Homo sapiens: one gene and its partners. The gene in region 1 interacts genetically with each later gene. Each region holds a gene or a part of one and is shown on either strand. Other genes may lie near its edges.

What was found.
Region 2: changes in MRPL22 (region 1) and PDCD7 together harm fitness more than expected from each alone (negative genetic interaction), as found in Homo sapiens cells (one large-scale study listed by BioGRID).
Region 3: changes in MRPL22 (region 1) and CEP152 together harm fitness more than expected from each alone (negative genetic interaction), as found in Homo sapiens cells (one large-scale study listed by BioGRID).
Region 4: changes in MRPL22 (region 1) and RNGTT together harm fitness more than expected from each alone (negative genetic interaction), as found in Homo sapiens cells (one large-scale study listed by BioGRID).

What each region holds. Positions count from the first base shown.
Region 1 is NC_000005.10:154,960,577-154,965,072, forward strand, and holds part of MRPL22 (large ribosomal subunit protein uL22m), read left to right. Parts: intron 1-4,496.
Region 2 is NC_000015.10:65,126,815-65,131,310, reverse strand, and holds part of PDCD7 (programmed cell death protein 7), read left to right. Parts: intron 1-2,140; coding exon 2,141-2,279; intron 2,280-4,496. UniProt on the Homo sapiens protein: Promotes apoptosis when overexpressed.
Region 3 is NC_000015.10:48,807,776-48,813,038, reverse strand, and holds the start of CEP152 (centrosomal protein of 152 kDa), read left to right. Parts: upstream 1-1,969; 5' UTR 1,970-2,078; exon of another isoform or gene 2,079-2,108; intron 2,109-2,231; exon of another isoform or gene 2,232-2,341; intron 2,342-2,444; exon of another isoform or gene 2,445-2,820; intron 2,821-5,263. UniProt on the Homo sapiens protein: Necessary for centrosome duplication; the function also seems to involve CEP63, CDK5RAP2 and WDR62 through a stepwise assembled complex at the centrosome that recruits CDK2 required for centriole duplication.
Region 4 is NC_000006.12:88,960,325-88,965,416, reverse strand, and holds the start of RNGTT (mRNA-capping enzyme), read left to right. Parts: upstream 1-1,798; 5' UTR 1,799-2,007; coding exon 2,008-2,071; intron 2,072-5,092.

The DNA of each region.
Region 1 (4,496 bases):
TGTTACTACATCCTGAAGCATTAGCTCTGCTTTTACATGCTTGTTCCACATCAAATTAAATTAATATAAGTTAAAATGCTTTGGGAAGCATGATGTGCTGTACAAATGTAAGGAATCTTTTTGCTGCAGACCGTCACACAGTTATTTTCTGAGAAGGAGATTAATGTTTATTACAAAGCTCTCTTGCCTCCTCCCAACACCATGGGAAAGTGGAGCAGTGGTTGGAGTTATTATTTTTTTCTCACTACAGCAATTACTCCTAACCTCAGCAGTTTTATATTCAAACAAAGATGTTGATGTTGAAGCAAAGTTTTCTCAATCTGCCATACCAACATATAAAGATTATTTTACTTAAAGCTATTTTAAATTCAAGATATGGGGAACATCTACTCTCCAGATGGAGGAGAAAGGGCTGAATCAATACAGGGGGAATTAGTTGTATTTTATAATTTTTCAACAATTAGAGTAAAAAAAAAATTATCTAAATTCTACTTTTTCACATAGCCTCTGTGCTGATTAGGTTAAAATCTCAGTTCAACTCACCTGGCATTGATGTTGGCCACCACACCTCCTGAAATTCAAATTAGTTGATTTTCAGTTGAAATGCTTTATTTTAAAGCTGAATCTTGTATAATTTTATTTTGATACATGCAAAGATGCAAAGGGAAATCAAAATGGCAACCCAAGATGCAGGGCCATGGTAGTTAATCATAAGCATTTTCTTCTGGGAGCATTATGAATAAATAATGTTGGAGAGGTCTTGGAACCATTGGAAGGGATGAGGAGCAAGACCATTTGCTTAAAACCTCTTGGTGATTCTTCCTGCTCTGTGACTCTGAATATCAAATCAAATTTAATTAATTTTATGCAGTTTCACAGGGATGTGAGATTCGTAGCTGATAGACTTTCTAATGGACTTCAGATACAAATGAAATATGATTTGTCTTTAAGCCTTTTTCAATAACTGTCTTTAAATCCTTTTCAATAATTATAGTAAAGAGAGATAGGATAAAGAGCTTAATCCTGTTGCTCCAAATGAAGGAGCAGGGTCCACTGTTGCCATTAAGCAAAAACATGCTTAACCAATCCTACATAAATGACCCTTTATTTTATCTTTTTTTATTTTTGGAGATGAGGACTTGCTCTGTCACTCAGGCTGGAGTGCAGTGGTGTGATCACAGCTCACTGCAGCTTTGAACTCCTGGTCTCAAGTCATCTTCCTGCCCCAGCCTCCTGAGTAGCTGGGACTAGAGGCACGTACGAGCACACTTAGCTAATTTTAAAATTTTTTGTAGAGACAGAGGTCTCGCTTAGATGCCTATGCTGGTCTTGAACTCCTGGCTTCAAGCAGTCCTACTGCCTCAGCCTCCCAAAGTGTTAGGATTACGGGCATAAGCCACATTGTCTGACCCTTTAATCCAGAGTTCTTTTGCACATTTCTGCTGAAAAATCTCTGCCTTACCTGTACTGTCTTTTCATCTACTTCTGTGTTGATGACTTAAGTAAGGCTAATAAATTTGGATTTACATTATGATTTTTAAAATTTTTCATTCACTAAGTATTTTGATGCCTAATTCCATAATCAAAAGAGATGAGTTCCCTCAGGAAGAGTATGATGTGTCAGACATTTTATCCCTGTATTTGCCAAGCTGCTTCTTAAGAATCATCTTGAGGTTGTTATTTAAAATATAGATTCCCAGGCCTCGGCACAGACCCACTGGACTTGAAACCCCAGTGGAGAGGCCTAGGAAGCTGTTTATTTAATAAACAAGTTAATAATAATCAGTTGTTTAATAAACTATTGATTCTTAACCATAAAATATGGGAAACTGATTTATCTTACTGTGTTCTTGGAAAAGGCCTAGACATTTCATTCCATAGACTTCTGTTAGAGTTTTGAAAAACTAGTTACTTATTGGCTACTATTTTGGTTCAGCAATGGTTCTTTCAGTACCCTGAAATAAGTATAGGCATTTTAAAGGAAGTGCTTTTTTGATAGCATATGTTCTCATTATATGGTAACTCTTTCAAATGCCTGTCATTGGTGTAAAGCTAATACCTGGTGTTGCATGACCACAGATTTAGAAAGTTCACTTCCCTTTCAAACTTATAGTGATGACTAATGATACTGTGAATAGGCCTTAACAAGTGGACAGGGACTAATAAAATGTCTCTGCTTAGTGATTCATGGCATCTAAAGTGAATCACTTTAGGGAAAGTGATCAACTGACCTTGTACATCAATCTTATTGGCTGAGAGTGATGAAGGTGGGAGCGGAGGGCTTCTAATGTTACAATTTCAAGATTTGTATTTACCTAAATACTACTAATAGGAAATATTTGCTGTGTGTATATATATTTACTTACTTATTTATTTATTTTGAGACGGAGTCTCACTCTGCACCCAGGCTAGAGTGTAGTGGTGCGATCTCAGCTCACTGCAACCTCTGCCTCCAGGGTTGAAGCAATTCTTGTGCCTCAGCCTCCCGAGTAGCTGGGACTACAGGCATGCATCACCACACCCAGCTAATTTTTGTATTTTTAGTAGAGATGAGGTTTCACTATGTTGGCCAGGCTGGTCTCGAACTCCTGACCTCAGGTGATCCACCTGCCTCGGCCTCCCAAGATTTTGGGATTACAGGCGTGAGCCACTGTGCCTGCCCTGAAAATATTGGCAATATTTTAAATTCATTACACCTATTGGGTATTATCTATAGAAAAACACAGGTTGTCTTCATTTTTGAGATATCTTAATGTATTCTTTCATTCAAAAAGTATTTGAGTACTTTCTGTGTGCATACTATCCACATTAAATAGGTGATGTTATATCTTTTGTGTCATTTTAAAACATTTAACACTTGTAGTTCTTTGACAGTAGTATTTCTTTGGAAGAATGCATACATTGTTCTTCTGAAGTATAATAATACTGTGTATACCATTAATATTATATGTACTTGAAAAACTTTGAAACTTATTTCAGAATTTGAGCAGATTTACCAGAGACCTCTGTATTGAAAAAATGATATTAAGTAGCAGATGATGTATTTCAAAATTATTTCTGTTTCTATGGATCATGAACTTTTGGGGCAATACAAAAAGGGTATAAGTTTGGTTGAGGAGGTGACTTTTACAGATGAAACACAGATGCTTATAAAGACAGCATATGATTTGGGACCAAAAAGAGTAATACAGACAAATGGTATTGTTGGAGTAGAGAAGAAAAGGTCAATATGGGTTAGAATAGTCGTGGAGACTTTCTAGAAAAAATTGGCATGTGAAGATAGGCTTTTGGGAGTCTGGAGGAATGCTCTTCCAGGAGAAGAGCAGATTTTTAAAGTGGGGTGGCCATACATGCAGAGGCACATAGGTTGGAATAAGCAGTAATAGTGTAGTACAATGAGGAGAACAGTGTGAAGGAAGTAGAAGTTTGACCTCGAGTAGATAAAATGGGAAGGGTAGATTGGGCCTATATTCCAGAGAACTGAACATGGCAGGCTGTGTATTTGGTTCAAACTATATCAAAGAGGTTTGGGTAAGAGATTTATGTTATTAAGATAGTGTTTTAAAAGTATTAACAATAAGCGGTAGTTTTGAAATTGTGCTCTGTGGGGTGTTTAGCAGTGGGACCCTTGATATCTTGGTCACCACTATATCCTTGGAGCCCAGGACAGAGCCTGGTACCCAGGAGGAACTAAAAAATGTTTGTTGAGTGAATGAATGGCAGAGTTTTGGGTCTTCCTTGACCCACGTTTCAATAGGAGCAGATCAGCATTACAGTGTTATATATATCAGGCTTCTACATATTGTTTCATTTTACTTGAAATGATTCCATATACAAAAGCAGTTTGAAACCCCTAAATATGGACTTAGTGGAGGAGAGATTGGAGGAGAGGAACCAGGAAACAGTTTGGCAACTATGTTCTAAGTCCTGATTTCATTTACACCTCAGGGTGGCTGTGTTGGGTATTCCCATTACGGTGTATTAAAGAATCTTAGGATGTTTCAGAAAAATTAATGTTTTTGTTTTGACATAAAGAAATGATGGCATCATGGCTTTAAGATATGCAGATGATCTTTTATGGCTTTAAGATGAAATCATGACTGACAGTTAGCAGGCATTGAGCTTCTGCTTTTGTGCAGATCTCTGTAAGTTTGTGTTTTGGGGGAGATAGAAGGGAAATGGGAGCCGACGTAGACCGTGATGGGGTTGATCATTGTGATCTAGTGATCCATTGAGTATTTGGAAATTGGTGCTCAAGTTGGATAGAGAAATGATTTTGGATAGAAGCAGCTATCACATTTGTAAAATGCTTTTTAGAAGTTTTCTGGTCTCACTGTTCTTATTTGTAGGTTTCCTCTAGACAGGTTGATCCAGGGGACGCGCCGTGATGGGGTTTCCTTATAAAGTGATTTGTGTAATGCTGCTTTCTCTGGAAATTTGTAAACTCATTTTTTCAGTGCCCACTAAATGAAGTTAATAAAAGGGCAGTAGGTCTT
Region 2 (4,496 bases), on another chromosome or scaffold:
TAGACAGTCCCATCTGGGGGTGATAGGAGACAGTGACAAATCATCAGGCTTTAGATTCTCATAAGGAGCCCACAACCTAGATCCCTTCCATGCGCAGTTCACTTCTTTGTGCTCCTATGAGAATGTAATGCTGCTGTTGCTGATCTGACAGGAGGCGGAGCTCAGGTGGTAATGCAAGCAATGGGGGAGTGGCTGTAAATGGAGATGAAGCTTCACTTGCTCGCCTGCCTCATCTTTTGCTGTGTGATCTGGTTCCTAACAGGCCATGGACTGGTTACCATCCGTGGCCTGGGGTTTGTTGACCCCTGGCTTAGAGATCTGTGGGAGATCATGTCAGTATAGCGTGGTGTGTGTTAGGAATTCAACTATAGGTGCTGTAAAAGCCCAAAGAAGGAACATCTGATTTACTGAGGGAATGCTTCCCAAATGATACAATGACACGTAAGCTGAGTCTTTTTTTTTTTTTCTGAGACAGAGTCTCGCACTGTTGCCCGGACTGAAGTGCAGTGATGCCGTCTTGGCTCGCTGCAACCTCTGCCTCCCAGGTTCAAGCGATTCTCCTGCCTTAGCCTCCAGAGTAGCTGGGATTACAGGTGCACACCACCACTCCTGGCTATAAGCTGAGTCTTAAAGGAAAAGTCACCCAGGTGAAGGTAATAGGTGCAGTTCCAGGGAAACAGAGTAATCCAAATGGAGAAGTGAAACAGCTTGGTGTTGGCTGTAGCTGTAGTGGTGGAATTACAGGCACTTATTTGACAGATGGGGGAGAGCACTTTAGGCAAGAGGATTCTCTCCACCACCCATGGTGAACTTTTTATTTTATTTATTTTATTGTTTTAAGGAGACAGGGTTGGGGCTGGGCGCCGTGGTCATGCCTGTAATCCCAACACTTTGAGAGGCCAAGGCGGGCGGATCACCTGAGGTCAGGAGTTCGGGACCAGCCTGGCCAACGTGGTGAAACCCTGTCCCTACTAAAAATACAAAAAATTAGCTGGGCATGGTGGCAGGAGCCTGTAAACCCAGCTAATTGGGAGGCTGAAGCAGGGAATCGCTTGAACCCAGGAGGCGGAGGTTGCAGTAAGCCGAGATCGCGCCATTGCCCTCCAGCCTGGACAACAGCGAGACTCCATCTCAAAAAAAAAAAAAAAAAAAAAAAGAGGGTTGGGGGCGGGTGCGAAGTGGCTCACTCCTGTAATCCCAGCATTTTGGGAGGCTGAGGCAGGCAGATTACTTGAGCCCAGGAGTTCCAGACCAGCCTGGGCAACATGGAGAAACCTCGTCTCTACAAAAAACACAATTAACTGGGCATGGTGATGCTGTGATCACACCACTACACTCCAGCCTGGGCAACAGAATGAGACCCTGTCTCAAAAAAAAAAAAAAAAAAAAAAAAAATACAAAGTTTCACTCTGTTGCCCAGGCTGGAGTGCAGCGGGTTTGTCATAGCCTGTAGGTTTGAACTCCTGGTCTTAAAGTGATCCTCTCGCCTTAGCCTCCTGAGTAGGAATAGCTAGGGACACATGCCATTATGCCCAGCTTCCATGGTGAGGATATTGGTGACAGAGTCTTATGAGGAGTGGCTTGAGGAACTGGGGTTATTTAGTCTATATGTGAACTAAGTCAAGAGTAGGACAGCAATCTTTGGTATTTGAAAGGCTGTCATGTGGAAGAGATCCTTGGGACTTTAGAGCAGTGGAACACAAACATAGGTTGTCACTAAGAGACCTTTGTAGAGGTCTCAGCCTTTCCAGCCACATTCCTTATCCTTCCTGGGAATCTGAATCTTCAGGTCTAGGGAATCTGCATTTTTAACAAGTCTCAGCTTAACAAGGTAAGTTGGACACCTGATCTCTGCACTACACTTTGAGAAACACTGAGGAAGAAACAAAACCAGTGCTATGTGGAAGATACAGAGAGGAGAGGTTCTCCTTTAAGATGAAGGTTGTACCATCAGTGGAGGGGGATAACCTCTTAGCTAGAGGGGAGTTGTGCAAGGCCTAAGAAATTGGGATGGAGATTCAATAGAGTCTCTCTTAACCTGGAGACTGTCTGATCCTTTAAAATCTAACCACTGGGCAGCTATTCTCTGCTGTAAGTTTGTTCCTAATACGAGGTCTCATGGGCTTTGTTTCTCTTCCAGGAGCAGGAACTCAAAGCAGCCGCTGATGGCGTACTATCTGAAGTGAGGAAAAAACAAGCAGATACCAAAAGAATGGTGGACATTCTACGGGCTTTGGAGAAATTGAGGAAACTGAGGAAAGAGGCTGCAGCGAGGAAAGGTAACTGTGGCTTTGCATTTCTTTCCTTGTTCCCTTCCCCTTCTTTACTCTAGCTCCTCCCACCCCAAATATTATTGAGGGAAAAATACTTGAAACTTCATGATTTTCACCTTGTCGGGTAACTGGGCTTGTCAGCAAGTAGGTCAGAACTTCTGAAGCAGGAAGCCTCAGAAGATGTTTAGCCTGTGGTAGCCCAGATTGAAAAGAGAGGCAAGTGTGGGAACCCACTGCACTGTCTTCCCCTTGACTTATCATTCCTACCCTGGGCATTTCTGGCCACACTCTTCTGAGTGGGCTTGTCATGGCTAGTCACCTTTGCCTTGTGCCAGAGTGAAAGCTTTTCACCCTTACTTGTTGCTCCAGAAAGTGTTGAAAACTTGGCATGCTTCTTCAGATACATTTCAAACCTGAATTATTTCTATTTGAAGAGGTATGAATGGTTGGACAGGGCAGGGATTGCAGACTGTGTGGATTTCCCCACCTTCCCTTCATGTCACTGGTCTCTTCTTGCCTCTGGAGGAAGCACCAGACACTATAGCCAGGCAGTTCAAGCTTCTCCACCGAAGTTTGTTTCAACCATGCTGGCTTTCTAGAAGTTACCCAATTGTGCTTTCCATTTGCCTGTCTGGATCTTAGCTGTTGTCATTCTGTTCATCTGGAGGGCCCTCAGTCCCATCTTTGCCATTTTAAGATCTCACTATTCAAAACCAAATACACATGCAGCATCCTTCATCCTTCCCTGATCTGGGCTGAGGTAACCTCCTGTTGCTTCTCACTTGCACCTGCTTTGGACCACATGCTGATTTATTTAGTAGATTGTAGGCCTTTGGTATTCACCAGAGATATTTGAGAGTGTACAAATTAGCAAATGCCACTCTAACAAATGATTTCCCATGTGTTGTTTAAAATGTAAATGAAAACTGGGATTCTTTTAGACCCTTAAGAAAGTTGTGTTGGAATATGACCATTTTGTATTCACCCAGGCTCGTTTGCTAGCTAAGTGATTGGCTTTTGCATACTAGCCTTCAGAGCGGCTAATTCACATCCAGACCTCAGAAACAGATGCCTCCATTGTGGTACTCTCAGGGCATTTGTAAATCAGAGGGAAGTTAGCATCTGCTTTGTCTACCCATCTCTTTTTCACTAGAAGGCAAAACCTGAGAGCTATTTAATATTCCCACACCTCACATCCTCTATGAGGTGAGTGCTCAGTAAACTTCTGCCAAGTGAATTTACCAGCATTTCCCAATATTAATCTTCCTCACTTTGGTCCAAAAGGAGGAGGAAATTTTAGGAAAATCATTATCTATAGAAATAAACAGACTTTGTGGCATTAAGTGACTTGAATGTAAAATGATTTGGTAAGTAGCAGCTGGTTGCATGCATATTTAAAATGAGCAGCTAACTTCTCTCTTCAAGATGTGTGCACCTCCAACTAAGTGCTGAATGATGAGGCTGGATGTTTAAGCAGGACCACGTTGCAAATTGTCTTATGGGCTATGCTAGAGTTCTCACTTATACTTAAAGCTTTGGGGAACCGCTGAAAGTTTTTTTTTTTTTTTTTTTTTGAGACGGAGTCTCGCTCTGTCGCCCAGGCCGGACTGCGGACTGCAGTGGCGCAATCTCGGCTCACTGCAAGCTCCGCTTCCCGGGTTCACGCCATTCTCCTGCCTCAGCCTCCCGAGTAGCTGGGACTACAGGCGCCCACCACCGCGCCCGGCTAATTTTTTGTATTTTTAGTAGAGACGGGGTTTCACCTTGTTAGCCAGGATGGTCTCGATCTCCTGACCTCATGATCCACCTGCCTCGGCCTCCCAAAGTGCTGGGATTACAGGCGTGAGCCACCACGCCTGGCCCCGCTGAAAGTTTTTAAGTGAAATGATGGCAAAGATCAGTGCCAGTAGAGCAGAGAAAGTTTTGGAGCATCCAGGAGAGAGAGAGAAGGGCAGAGAGATGGGTAAGGCTATTGGGCACGGGTAGTATGGAAGCATAAGCTGAGTGACGTCAGTGTGTAGGAGAATTGAGAGGTAATGAGTAATTCAAGTGATAGTGAATAATTGAGTAATTCAGAATTATTAGTGAATAATTCTCAAGTCAAAGAATTGAGAGATAATGAATAAAGGTATATGTGTATATACCCATGTACATATAAATAAATAATTTAAGGAACTCAGAGTACAGGAACTAAAGGGAAAAACAATGAAATGTCTTCCAGAT
Region 3 (5,263 bases), on another chromosome or scaffold:
ACCAAAAACCATTTTTAGAGGCATGGCAGGATGGGAGGTTGATTTATTCTTTATTTTCCCTCTTTGTCACGTATATGCTAGTCTCACTAAAATATTTTGTATGTAGTGATGAGCTCTGGGTTTGGAGATAAAGGACCTGGTTTCAGATTCTGTCTGCCTTGTATTAGCTGTGTAGCCTTGGACAAGTCATTTAATTTATTTTTATGTAAGTTTCTTCAACTGGAAAATGGGTAGGAATACCTGTCCTAACCCCCCACAGTGTTGTAGTGAGAACCAAATGAGATGATGCTTGTGAAAGAATTTACCAATCTGTAAAGCACTGTGTAATGGATTATAAACACTGCCTCCTCATGTGCTTACCCTGACACGTTTTATGCTTTCATCCTTCTAAGAAGCAGTTGTTTGTGCATGGGGATCACCTGGCATTCTTGCTGCAGCACTCCATCATAACCCTCAGCACAGAATGCAACATACAGTTTGCCAATCGACTTCAGTGGGATGTGAAAAGTGAAAAGTGCATTTAATTCTCACTAAGATGCCTTGGCTCAGATTCAACAAATGCCATTTACTTGAAGGCCTTTTATTTGCTTTTTCTGCCTGCCCCCCTGCCAAAATCTTCATCTATTTGTTCATTTATTCATTTACTCATTTAACATAATTGTTTTGAGTGCCTACCAGGGTCATGTTAGACACCCAAGAAGTAAAGTGAGTACTTCAAGATATTCACGTTGTACTGAGTGTAAGACACACAAAAACTTACAGTAGATAAAAGAACTATAATAGGATATATAGGATACACTGTGTACAGAGGTAGGAAAGATCATTTTTGCGAAGTGAGGGAGTGTGTGTCATGAAAGGCTTCAAAGGAGGTGCTAGTCTGTCTTCAAAACTAAGTAGCAGGAGAAGGTAGAGGCGATGCAGGTGAAAGAAACAGCTTTCACAGCAGGTGAAAGAAAAAAAGCGCTCTGGGAACCATTGTTAGCTCAGGCTGTGATTTCGTTCATTCTATTACAGTGGGTTAAATTACCTGTTGTTTGCCAAACCCTATACCAGTTTATGGGGTTACAGGGGTCAGTGTAGGCATCATGGGGGCGGACGGTGAAGTAGCAAAGGAAAACCAGCCACAGTATGAAGAGCCTCGAACAACCATTTTACTCCGTGCCAGTACACATGGGAAAGGGTTGAAAGGATATGTGAACCTGCCGCCACCAATTCCTTGATTATTCACTGGAACCCTTTCAGCCAGAGAAGATAGACACAGTACTGGGCTTTACTGAGGACTGGGTGGCGCTGTCTTTAGGGGCAGGTTAATAATATACACCTAAGTGACAAGAACACTCACACCCGAGGAAATTAGAGTAGTAAATAGACACGTGGAAAAATGTGCCATCTTATCAGTAATTAAAGAAGCAAAAATGTAAACAAAGCGGCACCTAGTAAGGTAGAAGACAAAGCAAAATATCTAAGGCTGTTAAATAATGGGGAAGCAGGCGCCTTAGAAAACAAGGGCAAATGTAAAAAACCTCTAAGGCAAGAGTTCGGTGGGGAATCTGCGGGATTCTGTGTGCTGAAGCGCAGGAGGCACGAGTCACCTTTGCAGTCTCCGGTACCAAACGGGCAAGGGGTCCCCGTAAGACTGCTGCACCCTGGCCGAAGGTAGCGGGTGAAGCGCCTCGGCGTCTCTAGGCAACCGATCAGCCCGCCCACTCCGGGGTGACTTCCTCGTAATTGGCTCTCGAATCCACCAATGGGCGCACAGGGGGAGCTTCCCGCCACCTCTGGCGCCCGCTTTCAAACAGCCGTACTTTGCAACTGCAGGTGGACTTCTCAACCAAGCTTGAGGAAGGCGGAGACTTCTGCCTCCTCGCTCTGCCCTGAGCTGGCACGGCTCCGCCCACCGGGCGAGCTTCTAGTCGGCGATTGAAGGATGCGAGTGCTCCTTAAGGGCCTCCGCCCCGTGAGTTCGGTTGTGACTAGGAAGGAGCTAGTGGACTAGAGCCAGGGTAAGGGGATCTGCTAGAAGTTGGTCTTCCGCCAGGACTAGAGTTTCCTCGCGGTAACAGCCTCCGTGGCCTCCGGTAAGTTCTGATTCACGGGTGAGCTTGGACCTGGGGTTAGAGGAGTTGCGGGGTCCTCGGGATGCTGGCTGAGGGTTCCTGGGGGGGCTGACCTGCCCCCTCCCCAAATCCCGCGGTGGTGGACTGCCCGCATGTTGCGGGCTCAGCTTTTACCTTAACGTGTCATTTAGACCTCTTCATTCCTCCAATATCCTACTTAGAAGTGACATATGGGAAGCCCGCCTCGTTTCCAGGCTGCTGGGGTCGCCCTGAGACCCTACTCTGCGGACCCCGCCTTGGTCACCCTGGCGTCACGCCTGGCTCACAGTAGGTGCTCTGTGCACGTGTGTTGACCGAGTACAAGTGACGCTGGCACCCGAAGCCAGTAGCCCCGGGCATCCTGGGCCCCGTGCGGCTTTGGTCATGTTTGTAGTGCCGTAGCTGACGCCAAACAGTTCCTCAAGGTCATTCGCTCAGCCTGTGGATGCTTATTGTGTATTAGCATTACTCGCTCCGCCCTCTGGGCAACTTGAATCAATTTGTCCAAAGTGCTGTTATTAGCACTGATCACAAGATGTTGTGATCATTTGTTTATATGTCTATTTTCTTTCCCTTCATCGTGTCCTGTTAAACTTTGTAATCTTGAACAGTGCTTGGTAAATTGTCGAATGAATGAATAAGGTGTCTCCACCAGGTGTTGCAAGTCTAAACCGGGCTATGTGCTCTGGCTATTTCCATTCTAGAAGGCGAGTTATGTCAGCAAGTAAGTAGAATTTCCCAACTCCAAGTGCAGTTCTTAGAAACCCCTTTTGTGGGGGTTTATAACCCTTCCTATATCGTAGTCATGAACTTGAGTCTGATTTAAGCCTATTATCACCTTATACCTTCATAGTGCGTGACAATGAACATGCACTCCCTAGACAGGTGAATGCACTCAACTAAAGAGAAGCTGAAGTTGAAGCCATAAGAAAAGCATAAGAAATACAGTCTGAAAGTGCAAAGGAGTGGCCAGCTCCATGGGGGAACAGGCTTGGGAGGGCATCTTGAAGGAGGGTGGCATTTTTGTTCCATAGGAGGTTGCATTATTAGAAGTGACATTTCTCATAGGCTGCACATTCACCTTTTCTCAGATATGCGGAATCCTCTTTATTCCCTAAACCTCTTCGGTAGCTGGCAGACTCCTATTCATCAGTAATAATGTCATAATAGTAATAAAACTACAATGTATTGATTGGTACATAGTGCTAATTACTTTACATGTAGTATCTTGTGAATCCTCAGAATCAATCTTTGAAGTAGGTATTATTTTTACCCCCATTTCTTTAACGTAGAAGCAGAAACAGTTTGCTCAAGATTGCACTGCTGATAAATAGAAGAGCCAGAATTGAGCCCAGGTTGTCTGAATGAGTGCCCTCATTCTTAGAACCACTTATAGCCATATTGTGTCCTTTAAGATTTATTTCTAATCTAAAAGCTCTTTTTTTTCTGTAAAACTTCTCTAAACTATCCTTTCTTCTTAGGAAAAGTAATTTGTGCTTTGTACTTTCATCTACTACGGAATTTATTACAATATGTTATTGTAACTGTTTATATCAGTGGCTCTATCTAAGAGAGGGTGAGCAGAGACAGTGAGCTCCTCATGGCTGGTACCATGTCTTAGGTGCATCTAGGATATGATCTGGAACACAGTGGGTATTCAATAAAATTTTATTGAAGTAATGAATTCGTATAAGGTAACATGCCTATATCATATTCAGTCAACAAATATTTGTTATGTACCCACCATGTGCAAGCAGGCAGATACATTTTAATTCTGCCTTCAGGGTGCTTATAGTTTATTAGATGAAGCAAAAACAATGCTACTTTTGCTTTGTAATCTTTTGTCCAAATACCCATTGCTTTTGTTGCAAGGAGGGCAGAGAAAACAACCGGGGACAACAAAAGGAATGCTGGGTCAGAGCATCCATCTGAGTGTAACAACAAGACATACTTTTTATAGTCTTGTTAAGGGTTCAGAAAAAGTTATCTAGGAAGAAAGTCTACCAGACTGCTATTGAAGAAGAAAACCAAAACATACTGTATACTTAATCTGCATCTTGATTTCTCAAGTGGTCAGCCTTGAGTCAATAGATATAGAAAATTTTCAGTATTTTTACTAGTGGCATAGTATTGACAAATTAATTCAAAATAATTTTACTAGTGTAAATGTTAATTTTCAATATATTAATATTGATAGTTTTCAAGATGGTTTAGCAGTTGATATTTTCACCAGCAACTCATGAGCCATACAAAATACAAAATAGTCACCACTGGGTGATAACAAGTTTTTTTTTTGTTTGTTTGTTTTTTCAATCTAGTGGTTGAAAATGGCATATTGTTTAAATGACACTTCTTTGAAACATCACGAGCTTAAGCATCTTTTCAAACTAATTGATTTACACTTTTTAAAATAAATTGTCATGTCAGTCGCCCAATTTTATATTGGATTGTCTTTTTCTCATTTCTTTGTAATAATTTTATATTGGGACTTTGTCAGGTGCTTTGCAAATTTTTTTTATTCTTATTTTTCTTGACTTTGTTATTGATGTATTTTTTCATATATAATATTTGACTCGTTAATGATGTCTTTTGCCTTAAACAAAATTTTATTTTTTGTGGTTAGGTTTCCATCACATTTTTCTTTATGGCTTTTGGATTTACTATCTTGCTATTTTTTTTTTTTAAAGAAGTCTCTTTTGTTGTTCTGAATATTATACTAAAGTCTCTGGTAGCAGTGATAATGAGTGGTGATTAATAAGTTAAGGTATTAGCTTTTATTTTAAGTCTCATTTAAAATATGTATTACCTTTTTACTATATATATTTTTAACCACATTAAGTTGATCAGGTTTCCCTTTATGTCTGAAATCATTTCTTAAAGTCTTTTATAGTTTATAGTTCTGATAAGGAAAACTTATACCTTCTTCAGTGGGGGAGATTTTGGTCTTTTCAGGTATTTTTAGATGTCTTCTTTAATGACATGTTTTGAATTTAAAATAACATTAAAGATATATACTTTGATATTTTACATTCTCTTTAAAAACAAAACCCTAAGTATTCTCTATCTGAGAAAAAGTAGCTGTCTATTTAAAATATTAGTAGCTACATTTTTAGCAATAGGCTCTTATAAATCTTAATGTTCTTTTTCAATAATCAACATCAGTTGAT
Region 4 (5,092 bases), on another chromosome or scaffold:
TGATGAAAGACTCACCAATGAAGAGAATCTACATCTGATAAAGAGGAGATCAAGACATATCTGGGAGGGTGTCAGGGGTTCCAGGAAGCGGGGGAGGAATCATGTTGGTCTGTCTGTGAGCATCTATTTTTCTTCTCACAGAGTAGTAGAAACTTGGGACTAGGAGCAATATAGGCAGAAACACACATCAGGCAAGGCATTCCTGACAGGCAGAGAGAAACTGCCTGCTCATCGGGATGCCACTCTCCTACTCTACTCTCTATTGTGGACAAAAGGTAGCCACAGGGTCCTCCCAATTCTGTGGCAATGAGTATGGAGAGGGCATAACTGGATAGCAGAATAAAAATCCAGTGCACATTGCTGCCTTACAGCCAATAACAGTTGCTCGCCAGTGGTATGAAGCTTCTGTGTGCCTAGGACTGAGCTACTGGGTATAGCGTGTGTGGGAAGGGGAGTCACCAAGGGGAGTCATCCCCAGAAGGGGAAGGTAAGATACTCTTCCAGGATCAGGCTCACCTTTCCCATCCTTGGAGGGGGTCTGGGGATGGAAGGTTTTTACCACTTTGGGCATGGTACACACTCTATCAGCAGAAAAGGGAATTCATCGGAGATTATTTGGGTAGACTGATGGCCTTAAAGGAAACTGGGTATTATCTTGTTCTGTCAGGGGAGGAGTTTACACCTTCACTAACAGTTCTGAGCAGATGCAACAGCAGGACAGACCAGAAGTGTGACCTAACTCAGGCTGCCTCAGAGAGATTGCTGTTGGACTGCCTCTATTGATGGGACTCTTACTGAGGGGGTCCAGGCATTCAGGGGGTTGAGCGTCCCAGAAAGTTCCCCACCGACGCTTTAAAAATGTATTCCCTGCAGCCTTACGTTCTTGCAGTTCCAATATAGCATTGGTGTTTAAAGCCAAACTACATTATAATTGATTCGCCATCATCCAGCTTTATATTTAACACTTTAATCTGGTAACAAAGGAAAGGCTCGTTAAAGGACGGCATTTATAAAAATTTTTCAAGCACCTCTGCTTAACTCGAAGGGAAAATAAAAGGCACTGTTTATTTGGTAGGCCAAGGAGAACAACGCCACGAAGAGGTTCTCCACTGATCAATTCCTACCTTTGTCAATTATACCACATTAATTAGTAACTTTTTTTGGAGACATGGACCCTCTCAAACTCCCCAGTATGCTTTGAAACTTTGATCCAGAAATGTACAAACAAAACTCTAAGTGTTCTGGAATTAATTTCAGAAGCTTCATAGATCCTCGTAAGTACTCACCAAAAGAAAAATTCCCCATTTCTGGTACTCCAATCTCATGTCCTTAGAATTCTCCTAAGACTTGTTCCCTTGAACAACTTTCCCTAATTGCAAATCAAACCTAGATCCGGCTGGGACGCCAAGCTTGAGCTGTGGTAACGCTCAGAAGGCCTCTTTTCATCAGTAAAATAGATGCCTTAACGGAAGTGGCGGGCAATCTACGCATGGAAAGGCGCTTGGCTTCCCTCTTTTTTGGGTTTCTCTAGGTTGTCTGGATGGGAAAAAAATACACGCTTCGTCCTGCGGAGTTCGGTACGAGGGCAATTGCACATGCGCAAAGGCGAACCAGTAGCGTCCGGGCGCGTCCGTGGAGCGGGACGGGGCGGGGCGGGGCGGTGCCGAGTGGGGCGAGAGAAGGCCCGCTCCTCCCATTCGTCGCGTCCTTAACTCTTTGCTATCCTTCCGCTGAGCTTCCTCTTCTTTCCCTCTGACCTCGGAAAGGGGGCGGGGCTTTCGGGGGCGGAAGTTGCGGTGCATTGTGGGTTCTCCTGGAGCTGTGGAGTTGATCCTGAATGAAAGTGGCGCGCCGCCCCTGACGTTACCCGGATCGGAGAGGTTGGAATTCAGATTACGGCTGCGATTCGGGTGTCTCGGACCCCGGTGTGCACCGGACCACGGGGAGGCGGCTCCAAAGGCGCGGTGAACGTTGGTGAGGGAGGGCAGCTCTGCGCAGCCCCAAGACATGGCTCACAACAAGATCCCGCCGCGGTGGCTGAACTGTCCCCGGCGCGGCCAGCCGGTGGCAGGTAACCTGGACTGGGGGGCGTTCGAATCCCCACACTCCAACGTGCCCGGGGGTGGGCCGACTGAGGAGCTCAGCTTTTGGTGGTTCTGTGCCCATTAGTGGTATTTCAGGAGCGGGATATGCTCCGTCGGATTACGCTTCGTGGATGAATGGGAACATGAACGGGAGGGGATGGTCGGCGGATGGGGGGCACTTGTTACTATTCCTGCAAGGCTAACTGTGCGAATGTGAAGGTAGACAGGAGGTTGGTGGCAGGAGGTGAGGATCCAGGAATACAGTGGGCGTACTTTGAGTCTTAGTAGTTTGCGAACCTGTTAGGGTTCAACCTTCCCCTCGAAAGAAGGGATGAATATCAGTATTGAGATGGAGGAGGGTTAAGGAGGGAAGGGGCGGTTCCCAGCGGTGAAATGGGGTCACATTGAGACTGGGAATCTGGAGGGTGTTTTTGTTAGTTTTTTATTTTTATTTTCTTGTGAGACAGGGTCTCTTGCTCGGGCTGGGGATCCTCCCACCTCAGCCTCCCAAGTAGCTGGGACTACATGCTCCTGCCACCGCACCCGGCTAATTTTTTTATTTATTAAAGTATATATATATTTATAATGTATATATTTGAGACATAGTCTCTCTCTGTCGTCCAGGCTGGAGTGCAGTGGCGTGATCTCGGCTCACTGCCTCAGCCTCCCAAGTAGCTGGGATTACAGGCGCGTGCCACCACACCCGGCTAATTTTTGTTTTTAGTAGAGACAGGGTTTCATCGTGTTGACCAGGCTGGTCTCCAACGCCTGGCCTCAAGTGATCCGCCCGCCTCGGCCTCCCAAAGTGCTGGGATTACAGCCGTGAGCCACTGTGCCTGGCCATAATTTTTTTGTTTATTTTTTGTGGAGACAGGGTTTCACTGTGTTGCCCAGGCTGGTCTTGAACTCGTGGACTCAAGCGATGCTCCCACTTCGGCCTCCCAAAGTGTTGGGATTATAGGCGAGAGCCACCCCGCTTGGCCGGGTTTTTGTTTTTTTTAATTATTTTTCTTGTAGTTTTTTTCATCTTTATTGAGCTTGAATACAATAAGCTTTAAAGCGTACAGTTTGATAAATTTTGACTGTATATACACAAATATATCTCTTTCCTAGGAAACAACCATGAAACCCCTCAAAGTTTCCTCTTGCCCCTTTTTAAATCCCTCCTTCGCCTGGCAGCCACTGATCTGCTTTCTGTAATTATAGATTGGTTTGCATTTTCTAGAAATTTTTAAATAAATGGAAACATATAGTGAGTACTCTTCTTGGGGTGGAAGGAAGTGTGTGTGGCTTTTTTCACTCAGCATAATTAATTTGATACTCATCCAGATTATGCATGTATCAATAGTTTATTCCTTTTTTATTGCAGAGTAGTAGTTTATTGTTCTGGGTATACCACAATTTGTTTACCTGTTCATCTATTGATGGTCATTTGGGTTATTTCCAGTTTTTAGCTATTACAAATAAACCTGCTGTGAACATTCATGTACAATTCTTTGTGTGGACATATACTTTCATTTCTCTTGTGTAAGTCTCTAGGAGAGGAATGGCTGCATCATATGGTAGGTGTATGTTTTAAGAATTTTAAGAAACTGCCAACCTCTTTTCCAAAGTGGTAACACTTGATAGTCCCACCATCAATGTATTATACAGAAGAAATTCAAAGGACTTAAAAACTAGCAAAAAATTTGGACACTTCACAAAATAAGTTATATGAATAGCCAAAAAGCTATGATGGCGTGGTGGTATGTGCCTGTAATCCCAGCTACTCGGGAGGCCGAGGCAGGGGAATCACTTGAACCCAGGAGACGGAGGTTGCAGTGAGCTGAGATTGCACCACTGCACTCCAGCATGGGTGACAGAGTGAGACTCCATCTCAAAAAAAAAAAAAAGTAATTTGTACTTATCGTGTAATTTATTAGTAAGGGTTCTCTAGAGGGACAGAACTAATAGGAAATATATGTACATATATATATATACACACACACACATACATACACACACACACATACAGACGTAAAGGGGAGTTTATTAACTGTTAACTCACACGATCACAAGGTCCCACAATAGGTTGTCAGCAAACTGAGGAGCAAGGAGAGTCAGTCTGAGTCCCAAAATGGAAGAACTTGGAATCCAGTGTTTGAGGGCAGGAAGCGTCCACCACAGGACAAAGATGTAGGCTGGGAGGCTAAGCCGGTCAAGTCTTTTCACATTTTTCTGCCTGCTTTATATTCTAGCCATGCTGGCAGCTGATTAGATGGTGCCCACCCAGATTAAGGGTGGGTTTGCTTTTCCCAGCCCACTGATTCAAATGTTAATCTCCTTTGCAACACCCTCTACACCCAGGATCAATATTTTGCATCCTTCAATCCAATCGAGTTGACACTCAGTATTAACCATCACAGTAATTTCTTTGATATTTTGCATATTGAGGAAAATGTTATGGCTGCTCAAACTTATATGTTGTAAATGTTAGGATTCACTTTACTAGTACTAGAAGTTCATAATTTTCCTGAATCAGAAAGAAAATGGTACTAACTACATATAATTTGTTTCTCTGTGAAGTCACTTTCTCTGATGAAACCAGACTTGCAATGAGAGAGAGCTCTTGGAGACAGGGCCAAGCTTTATTTTCTGAAGAACTGTTTTTTCCTCCTTCTGAGTTAATAGATTTCAGGTGAATACTTGGAAGAAAACAAACTTATAATTTCTTTTCCTTTTTCCTTTTTTTCTTTTCTTTTCTTTTCTTTTTTGTATTTTTAGTAGAGATGGGGTTTCACCATGTTGGCCAGGCTGGTCTCCAACTGCTGACCTCGGGTGATCCGCCTGCCTTGGCCTCCCAAAGTGTTGGCATTACAGGTGTGAGCTACCGCACCCAGCCCTCCCTAGTTTCTTAAAGATATATCATTCAACATAAAATTATTTCATATCTGCTATGTAAAGAGCTTACTAGGAACTGTGGGAATGTAAATATGAGACACAGCCAGGTGCATTGGCACATACTTGTG